Homo sapiens: one gene and its partners. The protein of the gene in region 1 purifies or fractionates together with the protein of each later gene. This does not show direct contact. Each region holds a gene or a part of one and is shown in the gene's direction. Other genes may lie near its edges. The genes, in order: ANXA5, POGLUT3, PLS3, HMGCS1, SUCLG1, HARS1 and CPNE3.

Region 1 (3,964 bases):
TATGAGAGACTAAATGTTGTCCTTTGTAAATTTCATTATATGATTATTTTTTGAAATTACAAAGAAGATATGTTTCTCAGAATAGTATTTTTATAAAATAGTTTTAGACTACTTTTAAAGGTATTCTTTTTTTTCAAGTTAAGAAAAACATCTTTTAGAAACAAATATCTTGACGTATAAGTGGGTTTGCTTTAGTTTAAGATTTTGGTCACAGGTTAAAAGTATGTTATTCAAGGTTATAGGGTTTTGTTTAGCTCATGGGCCTTCTACTTGGAGACAGCAACATAAAGAATTCATTAGAGCAAAGGACTGTCATTCATATTTAAGAAGAATCTTATTACAATTTCTGCTGGTTAACAAATTTGTATTTTCTGTGGGTTAGGATCTTCTGGATGACCTGAAATCAGAACTAACTGGAAAATTTGAAAAATTAATTGTGGCTCTGATGAAACCCTCTCGGCTTTATGATGCTTATGAACTGAAACATGCCTTGAAGGTAAAAAGGATGAGTGAAAGGAACATTCTTGCATAGATAGTATTATTTTGTTTTGGTAATTACTTCCTCTTATTTGTTATATTTAAAAAATTTTATCTGATTATTTCAGTGAGAGTTGCTTGGCAGACAAAACTGGGAGGCAATAAGCAGTAAAGGAGGGAGAAAATTACACGTGTGTCATTTCATCTTTTTGTAGATTTAAACTCAATAATACTGGGCTGTTTAAAATTTTCATATTTTTATAGCTTTTTGTATTTTATTTTCATGCCTGTCTTCTGATTTTGAGGATGTTTAAAAAATATTACAGATGAGCTATTTTATCTTTTTCAGTAGAAAATTGCCTGATTAGGGAACCATAATATTGCTCATCATTTTAGGTTAAAAGGTAAAGCTTCAGAGAGAATTTTCAAGATAAATATTTTCTCATACTCTTTCCTTCTTTCCTGCCCCTCTAAACACTAAAATGAAGTAGCTGGTAAACTTGCTATAATTTCAGTTGCAGCAAAAATTAAATATGTATTCCCTTGACTGGTGTTTGGAATGTTGTATAAATATGAAGGCATTGACACATTTGTTTAGGCTCATGGGACAGGAAGTAGTTCAGTTGTTAGCTGTTAGATTTTGAATGGGCACATTGAGATTTAACAAGGAAATAATGTTTCTCAGGGATTCTTACTGATGGAGTGGAGAGAGGAGAAGGGTCATCCTGATAGGAGCTGGTTTGTGCTCAGTCTCTTCATTTTCCTATGGTGATTCTTTTGGAATAAACAAAAATCTGAGGTTATTGAGAAAAGCACTTTTTTTGCTAAGTACTTCTGAAATGTCAGCAGTAGTTGAAATTCTGCCAGAGAATGAACTCTAGGTTTTTCAGTGCTTGATTTTTGGCAAAAAATAGAAATATAAAGAAAATAAGGCTTCAATATACTATCTTTTAAAAAAAATTAAGTCCAGCTATATCGTTGCATCTCTTAGTTTAATCATATAGATGTGATTTTTAAAAGCAGAAAAAGGAAAGCCAACTAAAATGATTTTTCAAAAATCCAGAAAGCAAGTCCCAATTCCTTTATACTGTTCTAATTCCTAATAATTAAGTATTGCTATATTTATTGTTACCTTTGATGTAGAATTTTCCTGTGACTGCACAGCACTTAACTTGGGGGTCAGGGGTTTATCTTTTGAGGTGCTTATTAAGTATCAGTGCTCTTCCATGTACATTTACGTGAAGTTTTCATTTTTACTCTTTCGGTTTTTAAAAAATTACTTCATGTTTCATGAAAATGTTTTACTTTTAAGCTAGAATTAACTGATCAAATTAAAAGTTACAAATTTATGTAACTGGTTATGTATACGTACACATATATACACACATACACATGATAAACATTGTTTTCCATTAGGCAAAAAGAATAAAATGGTCTTTGGAGAGAAAATCATTTAAAACTTGTTATTTCTATAACTAATAGAACTCATATACAAAGAAATCCATGTTATACTGGATAATATTTATATAACTATGCAATTTGGGTAACATCTATAACTTTCTTTTAATAACTTTCTTTTTAATCTTATTGACATGTTTTCTCTATTAAAATCTCCAAACAGGGAGCTGGAACAAATGAAAAAGTACTGACAGAAATTATTGCTTCAAGGACACCTGAAGAACTGAGAGCCATCAAACAAGTTTATGAAGAAGGTAAATGTTTGTGAGTTATATTTTGACTTCACCTCCACTATCACTTCCTTCATTTCTGTGATTTGAATGCAGTCCTTTGTAGGTATGGGAGGCACGCAGTAAATGATGGATGAATGAATGAATGAATGAATGACCTGCAATTCAAGCTATTTTTCTCCTTCAGTAAGGAAAAGACTGCCTTGTTATCCTCTACTATTTTCATATTTTATAAGAAGCTACTGCTGAAGATGGAGTTTACTTTTGCATAGGATTTGCAATTAGTGTAGGGATATACAGGTTGTCTTTATGTTAACATTAAGGTAAAAATGGTTTTTCCTCCTTTAAAAATATTTAGCTTTATGCTAGCAAAATTTAGGAGTTATATAAAAAGTACTTTTGGAACTTTGGAAGAGAAACCTAAACCCTTTCCCACATCAGAGTTGATAAAGTACATTTGAGTAAATGTATGTTGTCTTAGCTAATGGCAGTGCTTGAATAAAATATTCTGCATTTTGATTTTTCTTTTTAGTGTGTCTTTTATATGAACAGAAATCTGCATTTCGGCCTAAAATATGTCTCATGAATAGAATCAAGAAAATGAAGTAAAAAGTAGAGGTAGAGAGTCCTTTTCTTACCAGATTTCTTGTAGCCAACTCTTTCTCCTGCCTGACTGAGGAGGGTCAGACTATCCAGTTTCTCAGCTCAGTCAACAGACTCCAAGCCTAGTGTCTTTTGCTAGGGGCTGTATCTTGCCATTAGTTTGTTAATCTTAGAAATGGCTTTGTTAACCCAGCAAGTCAAAACAGCAAAAAATTGTTTAGAGCAACTGTATAATTACCTTTCTAAAGGGCTGAATCTCTCTTTCCTGCTTCTCTTTTTATAGGCAGTAAGTTCCCAACCGCTAAGGCAGAAGTGATACATGTATCTCAACTTTGAACTTTATTTGATGTACTATTCAAAGATCTCTTTCTGGGGATGTTGACGTTGATGAGAGCCTTTGTGCTACTGGATTACAAATGGTGTGCTCAAAGGGGGTAATAACTGTGTGGTCTGTCCTACTCAGCCGTGTAATTGAGCACTGGCTATGTGTCTGGCAGTGTGTTAACAGGCTGTCATGAGTGACAAAAGGTGTGCATAACACAGCTCCTGTCCTCAAGCAGTTTGTGTGCAGTCTCCTCAGTGGGTGACATGACAGAATGACTGCAATATTTAAAGGATAATGAAATTCAAACTAAAGTAAAATACCAATGATGTTAAATGCAATAATGCATTCAGAAGAGAGAGGTCATCATAGCTTTGGATGTTAGGGAGGCTTCATGGTACAAATCACACATGCAGCAGAGTTTCAAGACTAGGTGGGTTTACAAAGTGTCCATTGACAGATGAATAGATAAAGAATACGTACACACACACACACAAACACAGACACACACACACAGGAGTACTGTTCAGTCTTAAAGAGGGGAAATCCTGTCATTTCAACATCATGGATAAACGTGGAGGACATAATGCAAAGTGAAATAAGCTAGGCACAAGGCATAAGCTATGCATGATCTCACTTCTTATGTTGAATCTAAAAAAATTGAACTCATAGAAACAGATAGTAAAACAGTGTTTGCTAGGGTGTAGGGGTGGGGTGAATGGGAGAAGGGACTGGTGAAATATTGGTCAAAGCATACACGATTTTAGTTAGGCAGGATGAATAAGTTCTGGGGATCTCATGAACAGCGTGGTGACTATAGTGAAAGTATAACTATTATATGCTTGAAATTTGTGAATACAGTATATTTTAAATG
Region 2 (4,504 bases), on another chromosome or scaffold:
GCTGAGTAGCACGGTTAAAGCCGTGAGGCGGACAAAGGCTTGTCCAGTGCCTGGCTCTGATGTTTTGGGCATTAAGTTCCCCCAAGAGGGTGCAGAAATCCTGTGTCCATTCTGGGGTGTGAGTTCCTTCTGGATCATTCAGCCAGAGGAGAATCTTTATTGGCTTTAAATAAATTCAGATCTATTAACAATCCATTAACAAATTTGTATCCATTAACAAATTGGATAAAATGATCAAAAAAGAGAGGCAGATAGTAACCTTGACAATCTCTTCCTGGATCCAGCGTTCATCTTCTGAGGAGTGGTGGAGGTGGCTGAGACCAACCACGCACCACCACCCCTTCTCCCACTTCGATTACAGAGGCTTTGAGGTAAAGCTCGCACAAGGGCTCAAGGCAAGGCCTGGTCTTCTGCCACCCCAGTGCCCAGCTCCTCACTCTGGGCTTGGCCCAAACTCCGTGGATGTTCTGTAAACACCTGCTGGAAGAAGAGGAGTGCGGGAGGAAGCGGGGAAAGGGATGTGTGGGGTGGGGGGATCACGGTTCTGTGAGGGAGGCTGCTAAGCAGAAAAGCAACAAAACCGGCCACAAGAGAACGGTGCTGCTGTGAACAGAGGGCTGTGAGGGAGGGCGGGGGGCGTGACCTTGGCGCTCATCTTGTAAACTCGGAGACATTCCTTGGGAAAAGATATTTCCCTAAACTACATCGATCTTGGGGCCGGACCCTTTCATCGTCCCACAACAATCACCACCGGGTCTACGTCCTTTAAAAACACCTGAGCGGCGGACCCGGTGGCTCATGCCTGTAATCCCGGCACTTTGGGAAGCCGAGGCGGGCGGATTGCTTGAAACCAGGAGTTCAAGACCACCTTGGGCAACATAGGGAGACCCCGTCTCTACAAATAGTAATAGTAATAATAATAATAATAATAATAATAATAATAATAATAATAAATTAAATTAGCCAGCGTGGTGTCGTGTGCCTACAGTCAGTCCCAGCTACTCGGGAGGCTGAGGCGGGAGGATCTCCTGAGCCCACGAGTTCCAGGCTGCAGTGAGCTGTGGTCGCGCCATTGCACTCCAGCCTAGGCGACAGAGCCAGCCCCCTTGTCTGTATAAAAACAGAGAAAGAAAAGAGAAGAAAGAAGGAAAGGAAGGAAGAAAAAGAAAGGGAAAGACCACTGGAAGTGGAGGCCAGGCGTGCCTGAAGCCTTGGCAATCAACAGCCAGCGCACACTCGCAGCCTCGGTCTCTGGGCGGGCCTCTCCACCCCTTTCCTCCACGGGGCCTATGGGGCTGCGGGGAGGAAGGGGCGCACCCATCGTCGACCCCTACAGGGCGCGCAGTGGGTGATTGCGGCACTGGCTCGCGTTCCCGCCCGAGGGAGACGAGGCGGGACAGCGGGCGGGAAAGGGAGCCTGCGCCGCAATCTTTCCCGCCCGAAAGACCCGCCCCGCGGTGGGCCCCAGTCCCCGCCCGGTCCGCGGCGCTGCCGGCCCCTCCTCGCCGCCGCGGAGCTGGACCGCAGTTGTGCCCCGCCGACCATGCGCCGCCTCCCGCGGGCCCTGCTGCTGCAGCTGCGCCTCGCCCTGCTGGTGGCCGCGGGGGCCCCGGAGGTGCTGGTCAGCGCGCCGCGGAGCCTGGTGTGGGGGCCCGGGCTGCAGGCGGCCGTCGTCCTGCCGGTCCGCTATTTCTACCTGCAGGCGGTCAACTCGGAGGGCCAGAACCTCACTCGCTCTCCCGCAGGTAGTGTCCAGCCGCCGGCCTCCCTCGTCCCGCGGCCGGGTCCCCGCGCGTCCCCGCCGCCCGGGAGTCCGCCCGCGGCCTGCGTGGCGTCCCTCCCCGGCGTGTGTCGCCCCTTTTTGGGTCTGGTCAGCTCCTCTTCCCTCCTCCCGCCCATACTCAAAGCGGGCAAAAATCACCACGAAAGTTTGTGGAATGAATGAATGAATGAACTTGAAGGGCCCTTCCGCATTTAATGTGCAGGGACTGATGTTGCGAATGGACGGCGCCCGGGCGTTACAAGGAGTGTGCCGTGAGTCACACGTTGCCTTCCATCTCGGACTTAGTTGTCTGAACTGTGAGGGATTGCAGGGAGCGCTTTCCAGTGGTGAGTCATCAAGCCGACGGATCGCGTCGGATTACATGGCTTAGGCCTGGTGGGTTTGGAGCAACGAAATCCTACGCAGAGGAAATGTCAGAGCCGTAGGAAGGAGGAGGGGTTTACGTGTTAGTTTTTTGTTTCCTTTTTAGTTCTGAGTTTTTGAAAGCAGATTACAGGAACTAGGGAAACTCAGTAGAAATCATTCGGTTTTCCCTCCACGGAGGGTGAGATGGATCTCGTCCTGAATCCCTTTCTGCCCGGTCCTCCTCCCACGTTGTCCTTCACGTCTTAACCTTTGCAACTTCTTAAAACTTGTCCTGCTGGTTTCACGCTGTTGTCAGTCAGGATTTGCTAATGTATAATTTGGGGCTCTGGCCAACTAGCACCTTGTTGTATCAGCGAAGAGACAATTAGAATAAACCAGTGCCTCTGCCCCTGCTAGTCCAGCTGGGAACATAGCTGCCAGAAGTGTGTCCCAACTTGGGAAAGGGGTAAGGGGGTCTTGACAGCTGGGCAAAGCAGAGAATTTAGGAACCAAACATAATTCACTTTTAGATTTAATGATTTTTAAAATTTCATTCATTCAAGAAATACTTCTTTGATGTCTACTTCTGTGTTTGGTAATTCTGCTGGGAATCTAAGGATGAAAAGACAATGCCTGACCATCAAGGAACTTACAGTCTGTTGGTCAAAGACATGCAAATAACTGATCACTGTACAAGATAATTGAAGGTATGTACAGAGTGCAGTGGCAACATTGAAGCACTGCCAGAGACTGGAGAAATCCAGGAAGATTTCAGGAGCAGAGACTTGAAGGATGAGAAGGTTTGCTGGGCAGGCATATAGAAGGACGCCATGGCATGTGCAGAAGCACAGAGGCGTAGGAGACCGTGGTGTTCGGGAAAATAAGTACTGTAATTTAATGATACTGAGCGGAAAAGCCTGGTTGATTGTAGCCTCTGGTCTTCAAGCGCCTTGAATGCCAAGCAAATGACTTTATAACTAGATAAAAGAGAGCCACTGGAGAAATTTGAGCTGAGGCAAGAATCTGCCTCTCCCTTAACTACCTCAGTGGCTTGTTTTCTACATTTGATTCAGAACACCACTCCTGAAGTTGTCTTTGGGCATTGCTTTGATAACGTGTCTACCAGTTAGACCCTAAATACTCAGACAACTGGTTTCATATGCATGATATGCATTTAGGTAAAATAATTCCGACTCTATTGACAGAAACGCATGTGTGTATATCAGGGTTTCACAAACTTTTTCTTTAAAGGGCCAGATAGTAAATAATTTAGGCTTTGTAGGTGATATCATCTCTCACATTTATTCAGCTGTGCTTTGTAGCCATGGACATATAACAAACCCGTTTATGTTACAATAAAACTTTTTATGGCCACTGAAATTTCAATTTCATATAGTTTTCCATAAGTCACAGAATATTATTATTTTGATTTTTCTCCAACCCCCCTCCTCCTTTTTTTTTTTTAAGAGACAAGGTCTTTGTCACCCAGGATGCAGTGCAGTGGTACAGTCATAGCTACTGCAGCCTCAAATTCCTGGCCTCAAGGGATCCTCTTGCCTCAGTCTCCCCAAATGCTGGGATTACAGGCATAATCCACCATGCCCATCCCCATTTTAAAAATATAAGAATCATTGTTAGCTTACAGGATTTACAAAAACAGGCACTGAGCTGGATTAGCTAGTTTGTCAATCTCTAATGTATGTTAAAGACTCTCAGTTAAAATCCAAATGATACATGACTTAAAGTTGTGTATATGTTTTATATGTACATATATTATATATACATAAATATATTTAAACAAACGAAAAAGTTTACAGACAGTTTCTATTAAATATCTTAACAGAAGGAAAGTTACATTTATGATTCTGCATGGTTTACCCCTGTGATCTGTGACTTTTCTTTTTTTACCTTTTTTAGTCTTAGAAAGACTTCTCAGCCTGGGCAACATAGCAAGATTCCATCTCTACTTAAAATAAAAATTTTAAAAATTACCTACTTGGGAGGCTGAGGCAGAAGGATCAGTTGAGCCCAGGAGCTCAAGGTTGCAGTGCATTATGATTGTGCCACTGCACTCCAGCCCGGGCAACATAGCAAGACCCTTTCTCTAAATAAATAAATAAAATGGAACTTTTTGGACAACCTTACTTTCATTCCTTTGGATTCCCTTTGTTTCCTTTCAGGCCTCTTGATTTCTGGCTTCCAGTTAAAAAGGTGCCGTATAGTTCTGAAAACTCACCCAACTAGTTTCTTACATTTCTGCCACCAACATTCACTTCCAAGTCCTGAAGTCTTTCCCTCTTCAAGAACCAACTGAATAGCTGGTTATTCATGCCTTGTAATCTCAGCACTTTGGGAGGCCAAGGCTGGTAGACTGCC
Region 3 (3,964 bases), on another chromosome or scaffold:
GTGCCATTGCACTCCAGCTTAGGCAACAAGAGCAAACCTCCATCTCAAAAATAAATAAATAAATAAATAAATAAATAAATAATGCAAATAGTAATTCATTGAGTGTCCACTGATATTTCTATAAAACCAGTAACTTAACTGATAACATCAGTTACTTTGAGGGATGCAGATTCGAGGAAATATTGGAGAAAGATTTGAGAAGGAGACTATAAAAAGTTCATAAACCTCTAAATTGCTTAACTGGTTAGAATAAGGTTGTATTCTTTAATTTTAAAATAAATTCAAATTTTAAAAATAAGCCTGTACCTAGAGAGAATGTATGTACTTAGAAGAATGCTTGGAAACTCGTATTATCGAAAAATTCTAGATCTGAATAGAGAGATAAAATAATCTAATATGTGTATTGGCACTATATGCACATACATAAAGTGTTTAATGAATCAGTAAATTTTGTGAATATTCTTAACAGGAGAAACTCGTGAAGAAAGAACCTTCCGTAACTGGATGAACTCTCTTGGTGTCAATCCTCACGTAAACCATCTCTATGCGTAAGCCTTCCTACTGCTATTGTAAACAGTTACGAATGTCATGAATGGATGTTAAATAATGACAGCTCTAAAGATTTTCTAGATATTAATTTGTAGCTATTATTTATATTGGAAAATGTCAAGTGGTGATTTCCATCATCATTTTCCAAATACACAAAAGCTTTAAGTATTCCTTTACATGATCGTTAACTGTAAGTGATAGAATATATAAATGTCTTTATAGTACCCTAGGGAGCAAATACTTTATATTTTGAAACAGCTGTTTGGGAGGTTGAGGTGGGGGCATTGCTTGAGCCCAGGAGTTTGAGGCTTCAGTGAGCTATGGTTGTGCCACTGTACTCCAGCCTGGGCAACAAAGTGAGATCCTATCTCTAAGAGGGAAAAAAAAAGAAAGGTAAAAAAGAAAGAAACAGAGACCAGGGAATCCTTTAAGTAGACCATCCACAACAACTCAGGGACTTTGGTTCATTGTTCTCTCAGCCTGGAACGTTCTTTGCTCGCATATAGTGGCTCGTATCCTTACTGTATTCCAGTCACTGATTCAAAGATTTCCTGACTACCACCTGCTACTCTCTAACCCCTAACCCTAGTTCCTTTTTTTCTTAATAGCACTTACATACACCCCTAAAATTGTTTGTTTATTGTCAACAAACCAATACCCCCCGTATTGTTTGTTTATCCATGTACTTGTTTATTGTCTATCTCTCTGACTCTAATGCAAGGACAGGGATTTTTGTCCTGTGGGCCCAGCCTCTAGAACAGTGCCTTGCTTACAGTAAGCTCTCAATAAATACTTATAAATGAATGGGATGGTCTTAGCTCTGTTTTCAGCACAGATTGATAGAAAATATGAGTCTTGGGTATTATTTATGGTTTTATATATCTTGTTTGACAATGTAGTGTTACTGTTTTTAAGGAAAGTCAAGTCCCAGCTTCCTGAAAACACTGATTACATTATTTTTAAATCATTAGTGACCTGCAAGATGCCCTGGTAATCTTACAGTTATATGAACGAATTAAAGTTCCTGTTGACTGGAGTAAGGTTAATAAACCTCCATACCCGAAACTGGGAGCCAACATGAAAAAGGTAGATAATTAAGTTGCTGTATATATTTGTTAGAGTATTTTTATTCTCGATTAATTTCTTTTGTTTCTAAAACTCTTGACGCTGAGCTTCTTGAGGACAAAACTGTGTCTTATTTGTTTTTGTGTGCTGATACCTAGCATTATACAAGACACACACACACGTATGCAGATTAAACAAATGGAAGTCTTTAACCATTTACTCTTGTGCCTTTGCAGCTAGAAAACTGCAACTATGCTGTTGAATTAGGGAAGCATCCTGCTAAATTCTCCCTGGTTGGCATTGGAGGGCAAGACCTGAATGATGGGAACCAAACCCTGACTTTAGCTTTAGTCTGGCAGCTGATGAGAAGGTATAGTACACAATTTTAGCTGTTTAGTCTTTACTATCATACAGGTCTGTGATTTAGTCCTTACTGTGTTTAATAAGTGGATATGTCGATAACTACACTTTTGAAATATGTTATATTTACACTCCGAAATGAGTTTAATTAATGAATATATGTTGGATGTTAAGTGGGAGATGCTTCCTTGCAAGTTAGGCAGCAGAACTATGGTTAGTCCCTTTTTTAAAAAATAGGAAGCCTGACACACAGATTTCGGCCTCGTTTAGTGTCAGTGAATTAAAAAATTGTCAGAACAAAATTATGAACATCTTCATGCTCATTTGAAAATAAAGATCTCTCTCTGTAATGCTGATGAAGATCACTATAATGCTGAAAAGCATTCATTATGACTGGGCACCAGCCAAAGCACAGCTTATTTTATGCCATTACCGCTATTGGAATAGTACAAAATGTGCCTACAGTGGGCTGTTGGACCTGCTCATTAAAGCACTGTCAATCTGCTCCTCTCTCACCACTACAAAGAGTAGATCAGTAGCAAGCCACTACTGCTTGAAATATTTTTTTCACATAGTGTGAATCTCTTTCCATGAAATCTTTAGTCCTTGAAATTTAAGGAATATAGGGGCCAGGAGTGGTGGCTCACGCCTGTAATACCAGCACTTTGGGAGGCCAAGGAGGGTGGATCACGAGGTCAGGAGATCAAGACCATCCTGGCTACACGGTGAAACCCTGTCCCTACTAAAAATATAAAAAATTAGCCGGGCGTGGTGGTGGGCACCTGTAGTCCCAGCTACTCAGGAAGCTGAGGCAGGAGAATGGTGTGAACCCGGGAGGCGGAGCTTGCAGTGAGCAGGAGATTGCGCCACTGCACTCCAGCCTGGGCGACAGAGCGAGACTCCGTCTCAAAAAAAAGAAGAAAAATTTAAGAAATATAAAAAGTGGAAGATAAAGCATCTTTCTGATGTTTGCATTTTTCCTCATAAAGTAGATGGTGACGTTTTCTTCTGCTGCCTCTCTTAGATATACCCTCAATGTCCTGGAAGATCTTGGAGATGGTCAGAAAGCCAATGACGACATCATTGTGAACTGGGTGAACAGAACGTTGAGTGAAGCTGGAAAATCAACTTCCATTCAGAGTTTTAAGGTCAGAATCCATATTTGACTATTAAATATTATGTTTGCTGGATAACATCTATCATTTGGGAAGGCAACTTTTGGCTTCTTTGTGAGTGAGAATTAGTGTTGGGCTAATGGCACAATTCTTTACGAATTCACTGGGCTTTGTTTTTGGCACTTGATATAAGTAAGCACATGTTAATTTGTATGTATCAAAATTCTCAGATTTGTTCTCCTTTCACACTAGGACAAGACGATCAGCTCCAGTTTGGCAGTTGTGGATTTAATTGATGCCATCCAGCCAGGCTGTATAAACTATGACCTTGTGAAGAGTGGCAATCTAACAGAAGATGACAAGCACAATAATGCCAAGTAAGGGAGACTGCTAATAGTATGAAAAGAACGCAGCTTTGTAGCTGGACAGATCTGAATTCTAATTCAGGTTCTGCCATTTAAGAGTGGTGTCACCTTGGGAGAAACCTCTTGGAGCCTCAGATTCCTCATCAATAAACTGGGGGCAATAATACTTACCTTAGATTTTATAAAGATTAAATTTTTAAAAATTATAAGAGCCTAGCCTTGTGCTTGGCCTACTAGGTGCTTAGTCGGTTGTTGCTTCAGTGGATTACAGAAATAATGTAGCATGTATTTTAATGCAAATCAGGTAAAACTTTACAAGGAAAATAAGAGCTTAGGGTGTTCATCTGTCTGTCTCATTCTTTTTTTAAAAAACGCATTATCCACTTATGTCTCTTTTACTATACATAGATCATTCTTACTACATTTATTGAATTTATCTTCATCAGTTCCCATATTAACAGAATGCTTGCTAGCCCTCCACAGAAGACTATGCCTTGAAAGTTTCTTGCA
Region 4 (3,964 bases), on another chromosome or scaffold:
ATCTTACCCCAAAAATAATCTTTTTGCACTTGACCTGTGAATTTGTATTTGTTTTTTTACTGTTATCATTAATCTGGAAATTTGTTGAGGCACTGAAAGGACAGTATTTGAGTTAATGCTATCATAACACATTATTACATAAAGTATACTTTTTCTGTAGTCCAACTTTGCTTTTTAGAGGTTATGAGAAGGGGTTAAAAATCATATTCAATGACAAATATCAGTGAATTTAGTCGCTCTGGATAAGAAGCATTCTTGCAGTATATATTAACAGAATAGTGGTTTTCTAACTTTTTTATTAGGACCCACAGTAAGAAGTACATGTTACATTGTATGTGTATGCCAGACTGAAACAAAAATGTCATGACATTACTTACCCTTGCTGCAAGTTATTCAGTTTGCTATTTTTCTACTGCATTTTGTTTTTTAAAATACTCTTTTATTTAAAAAAAATACTAATCCTGACCCACTAAATTGATTATGTAACCTGCTAATGTGTATGAATCTTAAATTTGAAAATTAGTGACATAGTACATATTGTTTCATCTTTGAGTGTCTTTTTAAATGTATACTTTAAGGTATAGAGAGGTTTCATTATACAGTGTATTTGTGGTTGCTGTTTAAACATATACAAATATCCTAGCTTTATTCTAAAGTCAAACTTTAAAATTTCATGGCTTATATGAATTTCATAGTTTCCTTGGACTTCTCTTTCAGAGGGAAATGATAAAGATTTTACCTTGAATGATTTTGGCTTCATGATCTTTCACTCACCATATTGTAAACTGGTTCAGAAATCTCTAGCTCGGATGTTGCTGAATGACTTCCTTAATGACCAGAATAGAGATAAAAATAGTATCTATAGTGGCCTGGAAGCCTTTGGGTAAGAGGAGCTATTATGAGTTTTTTCCTTCTATATTAGAGCATTTTTAATATCTGTTAAGCTGTTATTTGTACAGACCTGAGAAATTGAGAGTCAGAAGAATCTTAGAAGTCATCCAGTCTAATCTGTGTGTCTCAGTCAGTGAAGAATCTAAGTCCAGAGAGGTGGTAGTTAACATGCACAAATTCTTTAGACATTTCTATTCAGATTTTCTGATTTATTTCTTTCAGCTCCATTCATGTTGTCACGATAAAGTAACTGCACAAGGGCCTATATTCACTACAGCAGCCTCTTAACTCCTTACCTCTCTCAGCACCCCTGCCCCCATGCCCTTTTCCATCCTGCACACTGCCACAGCTAAAGTCAGCTTTTGTACTCCACCTGTCTTTTTCTCACTTTAGGCTCCCTAGCATGCTATGTGTGTTCAACTCGTTCTGTTTCTCCCTGTGTCTCTTGTGTGTCCTTTCTCTATCTGATAAAATTATACTTGACTTTTAAAACTTGGCTCCTGTAATACCATGACTTTTCTAACTAAATAAACATTATTATGGACTTGAAATAGTATTCTATTCAGTTGATGAATATTCAGTTGATTGAATATTCTATTCATTGAAGCCAATATAAGTGAATATAAATATAAAGCTACAGTGCGTCTTTTAACCTATTCAAATCAAGCAGGCTTAACTTGATTATGAAAACTTTTGAGAAAAAGAACCATATATATACAACTGTTATGATTTCTATAGCAATTAGATTGCTGCTACTTGGCTTTTAATAAATGAGAAAACAATTATATACACTTAAAGATTTGAATCCTAATTAGGCCTGCTGTTTAGTGTAATAAAAACATAGGCTTTAAACACTGTAAAACTGTAAAATAAATCTTTCAGGGATGTTAAATTAGAAGACACCTACTTTGATAGAGATGTGGAGAAGGCATTTATGAAGGCTAGCTCTGAACTCTTCAGTCAGAAAACAAAGGCATCTTTACTTGTATCAAATCAAAATGGAAATATGTACACATCTTCAGTATATGGTTCCCTTGCATCTGTTCTAGCACAGTAAGTATAAATTTCACCTACTACTTAACTCCCCTTATTTGGGAGATGTTAGATTTCTAAGACCAAATCTAGTGTCAAGCATGTTGGTGGTAGATCACAGAAAATTTTATCTTGAGGCTCTCTAATCTGCTATTGTCCATTGACTTGAAAGATGTATGGGTTGAGGCTACAGTTCTTCCAGAAGTATTTGTTAATTTCATACTGGCTTTCCTGGCTTCTGTTTTCATGGTTTTTTAATTCTTGACCTACAGTTGAACCATAAATACCTGGTTGATGAAGTAACTTGTTTTGTGGCATGACTTTCACAAGCTCTGTCATTCCCCACAAGATGAAAACTCACATGCTGCAATATTAAAACTAAGTTATATTCCCTACTGCAATATTAACACTTTGAGTTAGATCCTTAAAACTTTAAGTTAGATTCTACTTTTACTTATAGCCTAAATTTTTATTGCTACTTTTATAGCTTCCCACACGCTGTAGCTTTGGATCAGTTAAACTTCTGAACTATTGTTACACCCTACATAGGTACTCACCTCAGCAATTAGCAGGGAAGAGAATTGGAGTGTTTTCTTATGGTTCTGGTTTGGCTGCCACTCTGTACTCTCTTAAAGTCACACAAGATGCTACACCGGGTAAGTGCTGAATCTTTCAACAAGAATGTATTGAGAACTGAGTCCAGGCACAGTGGCTCACACCCGTAATCCCAGCAGTTTGGGAGGCCGAGGCGGGCAGATCACCTGAGGTCAGGAGTTCGAGACCAGTCTGGCTAACATGGCTGAAACCCCATCTCTACTAAAAATACAAAAATTAGCCAGGTGAGGTGGTGCATGCCTGTAGTCCTAGCTACTTGGGAGGCTGAAGTAGGAGAATCACTTGAATCCAGGAGAGGGAGGTTGTGGTGAGCCAAGATCACACCACTGTGCTCCAGCCTGGGTGACAGAGCGAGACTCTGTCAAAAAAAAAAAAAAAAAATGTATTGAGAACTACTCTGGGGAAGTTGATTTAGCAGTCTTCTCAAGTGAGCACCTGAATCTGTCCCACAGATCATTACAATATTTTAGTCTTCATTACTTCTTTCAGTAGGTTTTTACTCTCTGCCCTAAAAATCTATCCAAAAAAAAAAAAAAAATTCTACCTTATCTGGATAAAGGATAGGACTAAGTTATCTAATTTTTATAGGCTTATGGTCTTGGCTATATTTAAGGTCACTTTTGTGCTTTCCCTGAGCAGGAAAGAGCAAAAATGTAGAGATAAACTGATGAAAACTTGACATTACTTTTTAAAATTATACCATGGGCCAGGTGCAATGGCTCACACCTATAATCCCAACACTTCAGGAGGCTGAGGTGGGAGGATTGCTTGAGGCCAGATGTTCAAGGCCAACCTGAGCAACATAGTGAGACCCCATCTCTATAAAAAATAATAAAAATAAAATAATTGTACCATGGATTAATTGTAGACAAGTTATTTATAGTTTCAAATTATGCCTGTTTCCTAACTTGTCTAGTGGCAGATACTCAATAATAGATTTCTAGTCTGACATCATAGGAGATTTGTCAAATAGGTATCATCTTATCTTTTAACTAATCAGTAGCCAGTAGTTTTAATGAAAATGAAAAGTTGTTTTGCCTCATTTGGCAACATTTTACTTAGGCTTCTTTTGGACATGATTTTTCAAAAAAATCTTTTAATGTTGAATTATTCACTATTTTAGGGTCTGCTCTTGATAAAATAACAGCAAGTTTATGTGATCTTAAATCAAGGCTTGATTCAAGAACTGGTGTGGCACCAGATGTCTTCGCTGAAAACATGAAGCTCAGAGAGGACACCCATCATTTGGGTAAAAATATTAAATGTTCTTTAAGTTAACCCATTTGGAGGGCTGATATCATTAAGGATGCTACATATACGATAAGGATATCAAGACTTTACTCAGTACTAATCTGATGTCAGTGAAAATTATTGGGATATATGAAACTTATCTTTAGCTTTATTACCAGATGAATTGTATATCATA
Region 5 (3,964 bases), on another chromosome or scaffold:
ACCAACCACCATTTAGCATTTATATAATATTACCAACAGAAATAAATGTAGCATTTTGTGATTTTTTAAATATTAAATGCAAGAGCAATGATACATTTAAAAATATAAGAGAGAAGGGTAAGAAAAATGACAAACTAGTTAAAAACATTTATTGACCTAAATTCCATGGTTCACCCTTAAATTTCCAGCTATTGATATTTTTCAACTTTTTCAGGCATTGGAGGTGATCCTTTTAATGGAACAGATTTTATTGACTGCCTCGAAATCTTTTTGAACGATTCTGCCACAGAAGGCATCATATTGATTGGTGAAATTGGTGGTAATGCAGAAGAGAATGCTGCAGAATTTTTGAAGCAACATAATTCAGTAAGTTTGGGTTTGGAAAAACATAGCTCTTTGCTCTTAATATCAGAGGCTTGTTTCAGAAGTTATTTTTATTTTTTCAAAGGTGAATTTTTTGAGAAAACATGAAAGATAAAACTTTCTGAGCAGGGCCTTCTATACTGGACACTCAGACAATTCTGTATTATTTCTGGGTTGATTCTCTGCTTCTCTATTCTGAACTCTCCTCCCCAGGCATCACCCCACACTTTGTGGTAGGTAAGTCGTTCTCCTGCTGAACAGATACATTCAGGCCATCAGCCCGAGAGCCCGCACTTGACCTGCAGACTTGGTTTTCACCTGTGACCAGTATTCTTTCTCCCGATCTCAGAGGGAAATAAGTGGTTTTTTCTCTTTTTCAAGGCTGACCTAAAGATCCTATCCCTTGTGCTTTTTTTCAGGCTCTGGCTTCCTTCCAGTTTTAGACTTTCCTTGTGGAATGGCACTTCCCTTCAGAGATCAAGTAGAAAAGCTTTACTGTCTATGTCCTGGGGAGGCTTTCCTTGTTGCTTCTCACTTAGAATTAAATGTAAAGGAGTAGTGTTGAGTTATGTCATCATTTCATTCAGCTTGAGGGAGTTAAGCCCTGTTCCTGTGGTGAAAGGAGAGATGGGGGTGCGGTAGTGACTGAAGCAGTGTGGTGGCCACCAGCCCCCACTCAGTGAATTTGTGCTGTGGCCATTGTTGTGTCAGAGAACTGTGGGAAAAAAATCAAGCAACTGATTTTCAGAATTTCTCTTATACTGAGGAATGAGTGAAAATTTTTCTTCAGGGGACCAGGCAAGAGAGTGGAGATCACTTTCTCTCTATATGTATGAAAAAAATCCACCAGTGAATGAATTAAATGCCACATAAAATAATACTGGAGAGTTAAAGGAACCAATAATATCATGTACAGGGTGGTTTACACAAAACAAGGCATATTTATTTGTGTTTTAAGGAATTTTCAAGGGCTATTTTGAATATACTTGATTTTCTTTTGTGGTGATTTTAAGCCCTAACTCCCATATTAGATATGACTCAGGTTTACCCTCATTCTCTCATTCTCTTTCCTTACTTTTCATTCATTCTTGAATCCTCAGCAATCAGGCTCCTGTCTGTCACTTAGAAGCTATATGACCTTGGGAATGCTTAATCTCTCGTTGCCTCAGGTTCCTTATTGGAAAAATGACGATATAGTAGTGCCTGCCTCCTAGAGTTATTGTAAGGACTGCGAAGTTTAAATGACTTAGTAACGTATAGCAAAGTAGTGCCCGGCACTTAGTAAGCACTCTTACTGAGCCACTGGCTGCTGTGGAATCTTCTTACTCTCCTGACATTGTGTTTGCACAGAGGTCACCAGTGGCCTTGATTCATTCGTCATCCTCTCCATCCTCTTGGTTTCTTTCTGGTTTTCCTCCTCTTTATCATTCCCTGGATCTATTTTCTGTGCCTATTTCTATGGCAGAAACCTGAGAACTAACTTTTATTTCTCTCTTATCCTGTTTCTACTCAGTTACCAAGATCTGTCTCTGAGACATCAGAGGTTTGTCTGGATTCAGAGCCTTGTCTGTACTTAGTCCATCTACTTTGGTTTGGGTCCTCATCCCATCTCATCTGGACCATCTCAGTGGTTTCCTTCTTGATCTCTCTTATTTTCTCCAACCACCCCCCTTTACTCTTAGGCCATTCTGTTTATGGCCACCCAAATTATCTGCCCTTCTGAAACATGGGTATTGGTGCTGTTTGTCCTTGGTTCACATCAGACAGTGTTTCCCATGTAATGTTTCCCATTACATGTCAGCTAAAGGCAGATTTAGCATGGTATTCCAGTCCTTCACATACCATCCAAACCTTCCCTTTTAGATCAGTTTTCCATCTGACATGCCAGTTTTCATTCTCACTTGCCTTTGCTTGTTCCTTCTGCAAGGAATGCTTAGTATCTGACTTTCACTCTAGACTGTGTTATGGACTGCAGGGAACTGTTAACTTCAGTGCCCTGCCCAGTCCCCTGGCACAGTGGGCACCAATACAGGTCATGTAAATGGAAGAGTAGATTGTTAAGGATTGGAGTAAAATGTTAGATTCCCTTGTGTTCAGAAAGTTGTACAGTTTGAAATATAAGTAAAAACTGACTTCTTTAAAAAAAAAAGTTTCGGTTAATACAGCATTGTGCTGTGTTAAGTTGAATTTAAAATGTATTTGGGCCCAATTCTGAATCCCTGGAATAGCCTAGTATTTAGTGGGAAAAATGAAACATAGACATTTTGTTTCATTTGGCAACATGTTTCCTATTCCTGGTTAGTTGTTATGGAATTAATTTTTATTGAGAACCTAATGTGTACAAGATTGTAAGTTAAGCAGTTCAGATGCTGCATTATATAAAATGCCTAGTGTAATACTTGGTGTAAACACTCGATAAACATGATCTGCTGCTGCCTTTCTTGTTATCATTACAATGATGATAATTATTTGCAAACGTTCTGGTGTTTAACTTTTATCCTGATGCTTTGGTAAGTTGTTTTTGTTCTTTCTTTATGAATGAGAAAACTGGTACAGGAAGATTAGTAACTTGACAATGGTAGGTATACAGCAAACGAACTGGGGTGAGATTCATACCCAGGTTTGTCTGACTTCTCCATTTCACCATGGAAGGATGAGGTGTCAGATTGAAGGAGTTAAGGACAAAGAGTCATCAATCCTGGGCATAGGCTCAGACTACACTGATAGCATTCTAACTGGCCTTTCTGTTTTTAGACATACCTTTCATCATTTTTGTGTCCTATTTTCAGACTACACTTCCCCATAGTCTTTTAGTTGTAGTTCTCTCCACTTAAAAAACAAAAACAAATAAGCCTCCAATGGCTCTTTGTTAATGGGACAGATGCAAATTTGTTTGCCATTCTAGGCTCAACAAAGTCTTGATCCTTTCTAGTGCAACAATATTCCCACTTTTTGGGGAACAGGGGAGTGGAATCAAATACAAATTAATGCCACTCAAACATGAGATTCTCATATTCTATGTAGATCTTATGAGTGAATGAGTAAATAATTTGTGGAGTCTTTTCTTTTTAATTCTATACCATAGGTACTACAGTAGGTGCCAGGCATACCGAAGTTAGTGAAAATATAACCTCTGTGTTCAGGGAATTCATAGTTTAGTAGAAGAACACACGGGGAATAGGTTATAGCCAGTGTGCTGAATTTAATAGTAGAAGGGTGTAAAAGGCACAACAGGGTCACTGATGAGATGATCACCTATGAGGGCATTTGTGGGGAGGGTGGGAGGGAGAGATAGAAAAGGCTTATGGGGAAGAGGAAGCTAGAGTCAGATCTTAAAAGTTAAGTAGGAGTTTGCCAAGCATCCAAGGAGGGTGGAGAGCATTCTCAGCAAAGGCACAGAGCTAGAGCATTCTGGGGTTACTGGAAGATAAGGAGAAAGGGAGGAAAGGTGGCAGATGAGGCAGGAGTAAGCAGTGTCTGACCATGTAGCTCCTTGCATGCTGCATCTTAGTGGGAATCAGGGCAGTCAGTCGAACCAGAGTAGCAGTCATTCACTGCCATGTACTACTCACAGTGCAAAGAAAAAAAAAGCCAGTTTCAC
Region 6 (3,964 bases), on another chromosome or scaffold:
TGGCACCATCTCATCTCACTGCAACTCCACCTCCCAGGTTCAAGCGATTCTCCTGCCTCAGTCTCCTAAGTAGCTGGGATTACAACACGTGTGCCACCACACCTGGCTAATTTTTCTATTTTTAGTAGAGACGAGGTTTCACCATGTTGACCAGGTTGGTGGTCTTGAATTCCTGGCCTCCAGTGATTCGCCCACCCCAGCCTCCCAAAGTGCTGGAATTACAGGCATGAGCCACCGCGCCCAGCCTCCCTTTGTCTTTACATCGTCTTCCCTCTGTCCCTATCTAAATTTTCTCTTCTTACAACAACATATTGGATCAGAGCCCAACTTGGAGACCTCATGTTAGCTTAATCATCTCTTTAAAGACCCTATCACCAAATGTAGACATGTTCAGAGGTTACTGGGAGTTAGGACTTAAACAAATGAATTGGGGAGGGTGGGGCCAGGGGGACACAGTTCAGCCCGTAACACTAGTGTGTTACTGTTTCTGATACTGCATACTGGGAAGTTTCAGGCTTTTTAATCTTTGCCAACCTGGTAAGTGAAATATGCTATTACCGATGATAGACATCACAGGGCAAGGACTGCTGTAATGCCCTTAAGACATTCCCCAGTTTTTACTTTTGACATTATTCGAATCTCAGGCATCAAAAAACATTTATGTTTATTGGTCTGATAACCTATTCCTAGTAGTTTATCATCAAGAAAAATACTTTTTTTTAAAAAAAAAAAGAGCTATATACCTAAATATTAGATATTGAAATGTTATGGGGAATTTTTTTTTTTTTGAGACAGAGTTTCACTCTCGTCACCCAGGCTGGAGTGCAATGGTGCGATCTCTGCTCACTGCACCCTCTGCCTCCCGGGTTCAAGCGATTCTCCTGCCTAAGCCTCCGAATAGCTGGGATTAGATGCCTACCAGCTCCCCCAGCTAATTTTGTATTTTTAGTAGAGACAGGGTTTCACCATGTTGGCCAGGCTGGTCACGAACTCCTGACCTCAGGTGATCCATCCGCCTTGGCCTCCCAAAGTGCTGGGATTACAGGCGTGAGCCGCTATGCCTGGCCTAAAAAAATTTTTTTTTAAATTAGAATAACCTAAACACCTAACAGTATAACATGAGGGAGGAAGTAAGTACAGAGCTTCTTCTCACTGGAATTTATGCATCTTTTAAAAACACTTCAGGCCGGGCGCTGTGGCTCGCACTTGTAATCCCAGTACTTTGGGAGGCTGAAGCGGGCAGATCACGAGGTCAAGAGATCGAGACTATCCTGGCCAACATGGTGAAACCCTGTCTCTACTAAAAATACAAAACTTAGCCGGGCATGGTGGCACCCGCCTGTAGTCGCAGCCACTCTGGAGGCTGAGGCAGGAGAATCTCTTGAACCCCGGAGTCAGAGGTTGCAGTGAGCCGAGATCACGCCACTGCACTCCAGCCTGGTGACAGAGCGAGACTCCATTTCAAAAAAAAAAAACAAACTTCATGCTGAGAAGTCTGAAGAAAAAAAAGATTTTTAAGAGGAAAATGTGTAAGAAAAATACTTCAGCTCTGTTACAAAATCAAAATAGAAAAAAACACAAAATTGGTGTTTCCTTTTAATGATAACTACATCAGACACCTAAGAATTGGGATAAAGAGCAGAGGGAAATGTAGACAAGTTGGAATCAGTCATGTTTGTTTTCAAAACTTCCTTTTAAATTGTTATGTTTATTATTATGACCACATTTATTTATGTTTTCTCCAGGAAACACTGATGGGAAAGTATGGGGAAGACTCCAAGCTTATCTATGACCTGAAGGACCAGGGCGGGGAGCTCCTGTCCCTTCGCTATGACCTCACTGTATCTTTCTAAACTTGGGCTCTTGAGACTTTGGATGGATTGGCACTCACTTGGCTCAGGTTTAAGAATGGTAGAGTAGGTAGGATCAAATATGAGGCCTTTGGCGATTAGGGGAATTATTTCTCTAAACCAGGAGTGGAACTTTGGCTAAACAGAGCATACACATCCTTAGAAATCTTCTGAATCCTGAGTGAGACCTCAGCTTGATGTCAGGGCCCAGTTCCAACTCTACAGTCATCCCCTGGCTCCAGAATACCTCTCCCCTGCCCTGTCCAGTGAACAAAATTCTTCTTAATGGACTAGCAACACATTTCCCTTGTCTCCAAGCTACACAGAGAATCATCTGCTTAGAAATCCCATATGGGGGCCTTTTTCTGGTCGCCTTTTTCTGGTCTGTGGCCAACCTGCCCAGCCCCTTGCCATGCTCAAAAAAGTCCAGTCAACACTACAAAAGGGAAAGGTGCCTTAATCTTTTTTGAGCCTTCAGCTACCTCATGTGGTAGCACAGCTGATGCTTTCTGATGTTTGTAAGTGCTATTAATCTTATGGGTGGCAGTTTTACCCACATAGGGAGGGGTTAGACCCCAGCTTCTGTTGGTGATGATAATCAACTTGCAGACAGTGATAGGAGGGGCTTTCTCCTTAACTCTTTGTCATCAGGTTCCTTTTGCTCGGTATTTGGCAATGAATAAACTGACCAACATTAAACGCTACCACATAGCAAAGGTATATCGGCGGGATAACCCAGCCATGACCCGTGGCCGATACCGGGAATTCTACCAGTGTGTGAGTGTTGGGAAACCGTGGGGCAGGATGAGTTACTTGGGGCTCTCTCAAGCCAGCAGAATCTATTGAGTACTCACGGTGTCCTGAGCAAATTGGATGACCCAGATAATGCTCTTAGGGTTTCTATGGTGGTTTTTTTGTTTGTTTTTTGTTTTTTTGAGACGGAGTCTCGCTCTGTTGCCCAAGCTGGAGTGCAGTGGTGCAGTCTTGGCTCACTGCAACCTCTGCCTCCTGGGTTCAAACGATTCTTCTGCCTCAGCCACCTGAGTAGCTGGGATTACAGGCGCCTGCCACTATGCCCGGCTAATTTTTTGTATTTTTAGTAGAGACGGGGTTTTACCATGTTGGCCAGGCTGGTCTCGAACTCCTGGTCTCATGATCCGCCTGCCTCGGCCTCCCAAAGTGCTGGGATTACAGGCGTGAGCCACCGCACCCAGCCTCTTCTATGGTGTTTTCATGCAGATTTCACAAAATCCCTGTGGTGGGGGAGGAGAATAAAGTCTCTTCATTTTACATATGAGTAAACTTGATACCCAGCCCATGAAGAGATCATAGGGATAAGAAAGGCAAAGTCAGGACTAGAACTCTTGGTCCAGTGCTCTTTATTTTAAACCACAGTGATAGGATCACAGCAGAGAATAAGGAAATTAGCTTTGATACATCAAATCATCCAGACTGATGCCAGGGCTTCTGGATGAATAGGGAAAATGGCTAAGCACTAAAGCCATATAATCACCCCATCCAGTAGGAGGAGTTAAGAAGATGATGAAGTAGAAAATGAAGGAATAGCCCAGTAGATGGAAAGGAAACCAAAACTGGTGAGAAGCCCAAAGATGCCGGGGTTTACCTCTGGGCTGATGATCAGAAAATGAAAGAGAAATTCTATGCTTGAGTGCAACCAGGCCTTCCTAGAGGACAGAGCTCCCAGAGTCCCCCCTTCAGAAAGGTGAATCCCTGAAGACCGCTGGCTAACCCTCTCCCTGCAGGATTTTGACATTGCTGGGAACTTTGATCCCATGATCCCTGATGCAGAGTGCCTGAAGATCATGTGCGAGATCCTGAGTTCACTTCAGATAGGCGACTTCCTGGTCAAGGTCAGAGCTGACAAGGCTGGGAGGGCAAAGTTGGGCCTGGCCTCTCACAAGAGAAGATCCTTGTGCAGAGGGACCAGTAGCCTAAGTGACCATGACTATTGCAGGTCATGTAAGAAAAGAGATTCCCCCCTCACTATGCATTGGTTCCTTGCAGGTAAACGATCGACGCATTCTAGATGGGATGTTTGCTATCTGTGGTGTTTCTGACAGCAAGTTCCGTACCATCTGCTCCTCAGTAGACAA
Region 7 (3,964 bases), on another chromosome or scaffold:
GGGAATGTTATTCTTTTTAAGAAATATGCTTCATTTTTATAATGAAAGTGGATAATCTTTAGAATTTGTTGTAATTAGCTTTCATTTATTGTAAATGAATATGGATGACATATCATATGATAATTCATTTTAGAAGTTCAGTCACTCTGTGAGTAATGTAAGCCCATCCTTGGGCTGTTCACCAAGTGGTTTACACTCTGGAAAAAGCATCAGTTTGGTTTTAAACAAAGGAGATACTATACAGCAAAAAGCTCAGAGCCTTATTTTAAGGCAAGGAAGTTTAATCCCCTTTTCCTAACTAATCATTGAATCTAGTTGCCTTAGAAATAATATGCCTTAGAAATAACTTGTTACTTTGATGCATAGAAAGGGTTTTGGCATAATTCAGTTTTAATTAAGGAATTGAAAGCTCTTGATATTTGTGAAGAAATTATTATTATTATTAATTTTTTTTTTTTTTTTTTCGAGACGAAGTCTTGCTCTTTTCCCCCAGGCTGGAGTGCAATGGCACGATCTTGGCTCACTGCAACCTCCTCCTCCCGGGTTCAAGCAATTCTCCTGCCACAGCCCGCCCCCCCCCCCCCCCCGCCCACAACCGAGTAGCTGGGATTACAGGCGCCTGCCACCACGCTCGGCTAATTTTTGTATTTTTAGTAAAGACAGGGTTTCACCATGTTGGCCAGGCTGGTCTAGAACTGCTGACCTCTTGTGATCTACCTGCCTCTGCCTCCCGAAGTGCTGAGATTATAGGCATGAGCCACCGTGCCCAGCCCTAAATGAATTATTTATACCTTTGTTACTACTGGACTGACTACTAGTAACATGGACCTTCTGCATGTAAAATCACCCCTGCCTATGAATTAGTTATGTTCTCAAAGGTTGTTCATAAGACTACCTGTTCCTAAATTCAAAGAAACTAAGAGGAGTTTATTGGAACTCTTACATTTTAAGAGAAGAGAGTTGGTTTCCTGAAGCTTTCAAGCCAAGTATGGTCATGCACTAAAAATGACATTTTAGTCAAGGACAGACCACATGTATGACAGTAGGCCCATAAGATTTTAATATTTTATTTTTACTGTAAAGACATAGAAAAGGTACAGTTGCTATAATTGCCTACATTATTCAGCATAGCAATATGCAGTACAGGTTTTTAACCTAGGAGTAATAGGCTATACCATCTAGGTTTGTGTAAGTATACTCTATGATGTTCATACGATGATGAAATCACCTAACGATGCATTTCTCAGAATTTATCCCCATTGGTAAGTGACACATGACTGTATATGCTTCTCCTTTTTGTTGATCTGTGTTCTCTTAGACATTTTAAAAGCAAGAGACCTGTTTTGATTTACATTAAGTTTTTTTTTTTTTTTTTGTGGCAAGTATCTGTGATGATCTCAGCAAGTATTGTTGGAAATTCTTTAGAATTTCTGTTATCCTGTCTGCATCCTAAATGCTGTGATATTAAGGGCAGATTCAACAGGTGCTTGTGTGGGATACAAGTTTCATCAGCAGTGCTTTGACCAGCAATGTCAGTCAGCTTTCACTGGGTTGTGCTGTTGTAATAAACAATCTCTAAATCTCAGTGGCTTTAATGACAACAGTTTATTTCTTGCTCATTTTACATGCAGCTAGGCTGGAGTTCTCTCCATGTTTCTTATATTGGGACTCAGGCTGAAGGAACAGCCTTATCTGGGATGTGCTGCTCCTACGGCAGAGGAAAGGAGCAAGAGAGCTGGAAAAAACAGGCAGTAGTTCTTAAGACATCTCCTTAGGTATGGGTGTCACATGCATTGGTCAAAGCTAATCAAATGGTCCTGTCCAACTTTCTATTATAAAATGCACCAGCAGGTCTAGGGGTAGTACCCCTAAACAAACACATCAGTGCTTCTGCAGCAAAATGGATAAGTAACCTGGAAGTGAATATTTGGAACTAATGCAGTCTGTGATACAATGATTAACCTTTAACTTATTGAATAAACACTTGTATCAGTTAATTAACTAGAATTAATATTAGGTTTATCGCCATCTGGTATTTTTGTAGAACCTCTGGCCATATATGCAAATGATTTTTCATTTTATTAATAACTCTTTCTTACCTTTCATCATCAGTTGTATGATGTGAAACCTTTTTCATGGTTTTCTATCAGAGCCACATTCCCAACATGTATTAAAAATTAAGCACAGATGTAACAGTCCTACCGTAGACTAATAAGTAATTTGACTGAGATGAAAGTAAATCCCTTCTATTGGGGGAGGACAGAGCTTATAGGTTTTTGCAATGGATCATACCTATGGAGTTATGTAATACATAGCTTAGAGGAACTACTGCTTATAGAACTTTTGACTATTTAAAGCACTATATGTTGATACATATAATCAAATTAGCCAGTATTGTGAATAAACACATTGTGCTTGAGAATTTTTAGTACTGTTTTTTATTTGTTTGTTTGTTCTAGGAATCCAAGGCATTGTAGAGGCGTATCGGTCTTGTCTTCCTCAGATAAAACTCTATGGACCAACTAATTTTTCTCCAATCATAAATCACGTGGCCAGGTTTGCTGCTGCAGCCACGCAACAGCAGACAGCTTCTGTAAGTGCTCTATGGCCAGGGAATGGGAAGAATGTGGATTGGTAGCAGCTCCTGGTGCCATTTTTCTATGTTTTTGGTTTGTCATAATACAAAGTCAGGGCAAGATACAATAACACAGTCATTCTTGGTTTGGGAGTAACTTTTGTTGTTGTTATACTAGTGATCGTTAAAAATAAGACAACAGCAAAACAACACTTGGCATTCATGAGTCTTTTATCCTTGGAATTAACTTTCTTAGATAGGTTCTACCAAAAAAAAAAAAATGCCTATCATCTACCTTTTTGAAGTAGACATAACAAATTAAGCTTAAGGAAAGTTACCACATCAGATGCTGTTGCAAGATTTCTTATTGTACTAAAGATATTTGAATGAGGTAACCATTACCTATTGGACCGTGGATACCAAATTTCTCTTAGCCTCAGCATATTCAGAAGTAAGTTAGGGGAAACTACCTCATACTGTTGTTGAAAAGGTTAGATAATTCATATAAAGTACACAATGCCTGGGTCAGAGTAAACACTCAACATATGTTAACTAATATTGTAAATCTTATTCCTATTCTAGACTTAAATGGCCCAAAAGATGGAGTCACTACTTGATGTAACATTTTACTGCTCTCTGAAAAGGTTTATCTTAGGTGACACAATCTGGGGGATGATTTCATCACTTAAACCATATCTATTTTTTTGTGTGTATTTTAGCTTCTAAAATTTTTGTATTCTAATATTCTAATTCTAATAATTTTTGTATTTATTTGATCTTCTGAGAATGAAGTTTCCACTTGCCTCCTTGATAGATACTTTGACATATTTAATACTTGAGTTAAAACTGTTTATTCCTAGCCTTACTGAAAGGTTAATCTTTGACATTTAGATGTCCTGCTTCCATATATTTTGCCAACCCTATTTTGTGGTCTGCTGCGCTTTTAATGAACCTGCAGTTTTTGTAAGAGTCAATTTCCTTGTCATCAGAGAAGCTTAGAATATTTTATGTGGTGGTAGCTAGGGTAGAGACTGGCAAGGAAAATGAACAAGAAAGACTGGATGACTCATCAAGCCAGAGATGCCATTAGCCATTGCTTGACTTGCTCAGGGGACATGTTTTCTTTTTCTGGCAGCAATATTTTGTGCTTTTGATTATTACTGATGGTGTGATCACAGACCTTGATGAAACCAGACAAGCTATAGTTAATGCCTCCAGGCTGCCTATGTCCATCATAATTGTTGGAGTTGGAGGTGCTGACTTCAGCGCCATGGAGTTTCTGGATGGTGATGGTGGAAGTCTCCGCTCCCCATTGGGCGAAGTGGCCATCAGAGATATTGTCCAGTTTGTGCCTTTCAGACAGTTCCAGAATGTGAGTACCACTCCTCC

The links.
Region 2: the proteins of ANXA5 (region 1) and POGLUT3 fractionate together in Homo sapiens (co-fractionation; one large-scale study listed by BioGRID). This does not show direct contact.
Region 3: the proteins of ANXA5 (region 1) and PLS3 purify together in Homo sapiens (affinity purification with mass spectrometry, with the first as the bait; one large-scale study listed by BioGRID). This does not show direct contact.
Region 4: the proteins of ANXA5 (region 1) and HMGCS1 fractionate together in Homo sapiens (co-fractionation; one large-scale study listed by BioGRID). This does not show direct contact.
Region 5: the proteins of ANXA5 (region 1) and SUCLG1 fractionate together in Homo sapiens (co-fractionation; one large-scale study listed by BioGRID). This does not show direct contact.
Region 6: the proteins of ANXA5 (region 1) and HARS1 fractionate together in Homo sapiens (co-fractionation; one large-scale study listed by BioGRID). This does not show direct contact.
Region 7: the proteins of ANXA5 (region 1) and CPNE3 purify together in Homo sapiens (affinity purification with mass spectrometry, with the first as the bait; one large-scale study listed by BioGRID). This does not show direct contact.

Annotation. Positions count from the first base shown.
Region 1 is NC_000004.12:121,679,896-121,683,859, reverse strand, and holds part of ANXA5 (annexin A5), read left to right. Parts: intron 1-382; coding exon 383-496; intron 497-2,098; coding exon 2,099-2,189; intron 2,190-3,051; coding exon of another isoform or gene 3,052-3,104; exon of another isoform or gene 3,105-3,964. UniProt on the Homo sapiens protein: This protein is an anticoagulant protein that acts as an indirect inhibitor of the thromboplastin-specific complex, which is involved in the blood coagulation cascade.
Region 2 is NC_000011.10:108,495,406-108,499,909, reverse strand, and holds the start of POGLUT3 (protein O-glucosyltransferase 3 isoform 1 precursor), read left to right. Parts: upstream 1-1,525; 5' UTR 1,526-1,543; coding exon 1,544-1,745; exon of another isoform or gene 1,746-1,949; coding exon of another isoform or gene 1,950-2,109; intron 2,110-2,691; exon of another isoform or gene 2,692-4,504. UniProt on the Homo sapiens protein: Protein glucosyltransferase that catalyzes the transfer of glucose from UDP-glucose to a serine residue within the consensus sequence peptide C-X-N-T-X-G-S-F-X-C. Can also catalyze the transfer of xylose from UDP-xylose but less efficiently.
Region 3 is NC_000023.11:115,644,552-115,648,515, forward strand, and holds part of PLS3 (plastin-3), read left to right. Parts: intron 1-469; coding exon 470-548; intron 549-1,520; coding exon 1,521-1,635; intron 1,636-1,850; coding exon 1,851-1,984; intron 1,985-2,998; coding exon 2,999-3,122; intron 3,123-3,341; coding exon 3,342-3,466; intron 3,467-3,964. UniProt on the Homo sapiens protein: Actin-bundling protein.
Region 4 is NC_000005.10:43,292,671-43,296,634, reverse strand, and holds part of HMGCS1 (hydroxymethylglutaryl-CoA synthase, cytoplasmic), read left to right. Parts: intron 1-717; coding exon 718-883; intron 884-1,773; coding exon 1,774-1,944; intron 1,945-2,472; coding exon 2,473-2,579; intron 2,580-3,661; coding exon 3,662-3,787; intron 3,788-3,964. UniProt on the Homo sapiens protein: Catalyzes the condensation of acetyl-CoA with acetoacetyl-CoA to form HMG-CoA, which is converted by HMG-CoA reductase (HMGCR) into mevalonate, a precursor for cholesterol synthesis.
Region 5 is NC_000002.12:84,427,910-84,431,873, reverse strand, and holds part of SUCLG1 (succinate--CoA ligase [ADP/GDP-forming] subunit alpha, mitochondrial precursor), read left to right. Parts: intron 1-214; coding exon 215-366; intron 367-3,964. UniProt on the Homo sapiens protein: Succinyl-CoA synthetase functions in the citric acid cycle (TCA), coupling the hydrolysis of succinyl-CoA to the synthesis of either ATP or GTP and thus represents the only step of substrate-level phosphorylation in the TCA.
Region 6 is NC_000005.10:140,677,665-140,681,628, reverse strand, and holds part of HARS1 (histidine--tRNA ligase, cytoplasmic), read left to right. Parts: intron 1-1,745; coding exon 1,746-1,841; intron 1,842-2,501; coding exon 2,502-2,627; intron 2,628-3,613; coding exon 3,614-3,721; intron 3,722-3,875; coding exon 3,876-3,964. UniProt on the Homo sapiens protein: Catalyzes the ATP-dependent ligation of histidine to the 3'-end of its cognate tRNA, via the formation of an aminoacyl-adenylate intermediate (His-AMP). Plays a role in axon guidance.
Region 7 is NC_000008.11:86,552,392-86,556,355, forward strand, and holds part of CPNE3 (copine-3), read left to right. Parts: intron 1-2,459; coding exon 2,460-2,593; intron 2,594-3,710; coding exon 3,711-3,947; intron 3,948-3,964. UniProt on the Homo sapiens protein: Calcium-dependent phospholipid-binding protein that plays a role in ERBB2-mediated tumor cell migration in response to growth factor heregulin stimulation.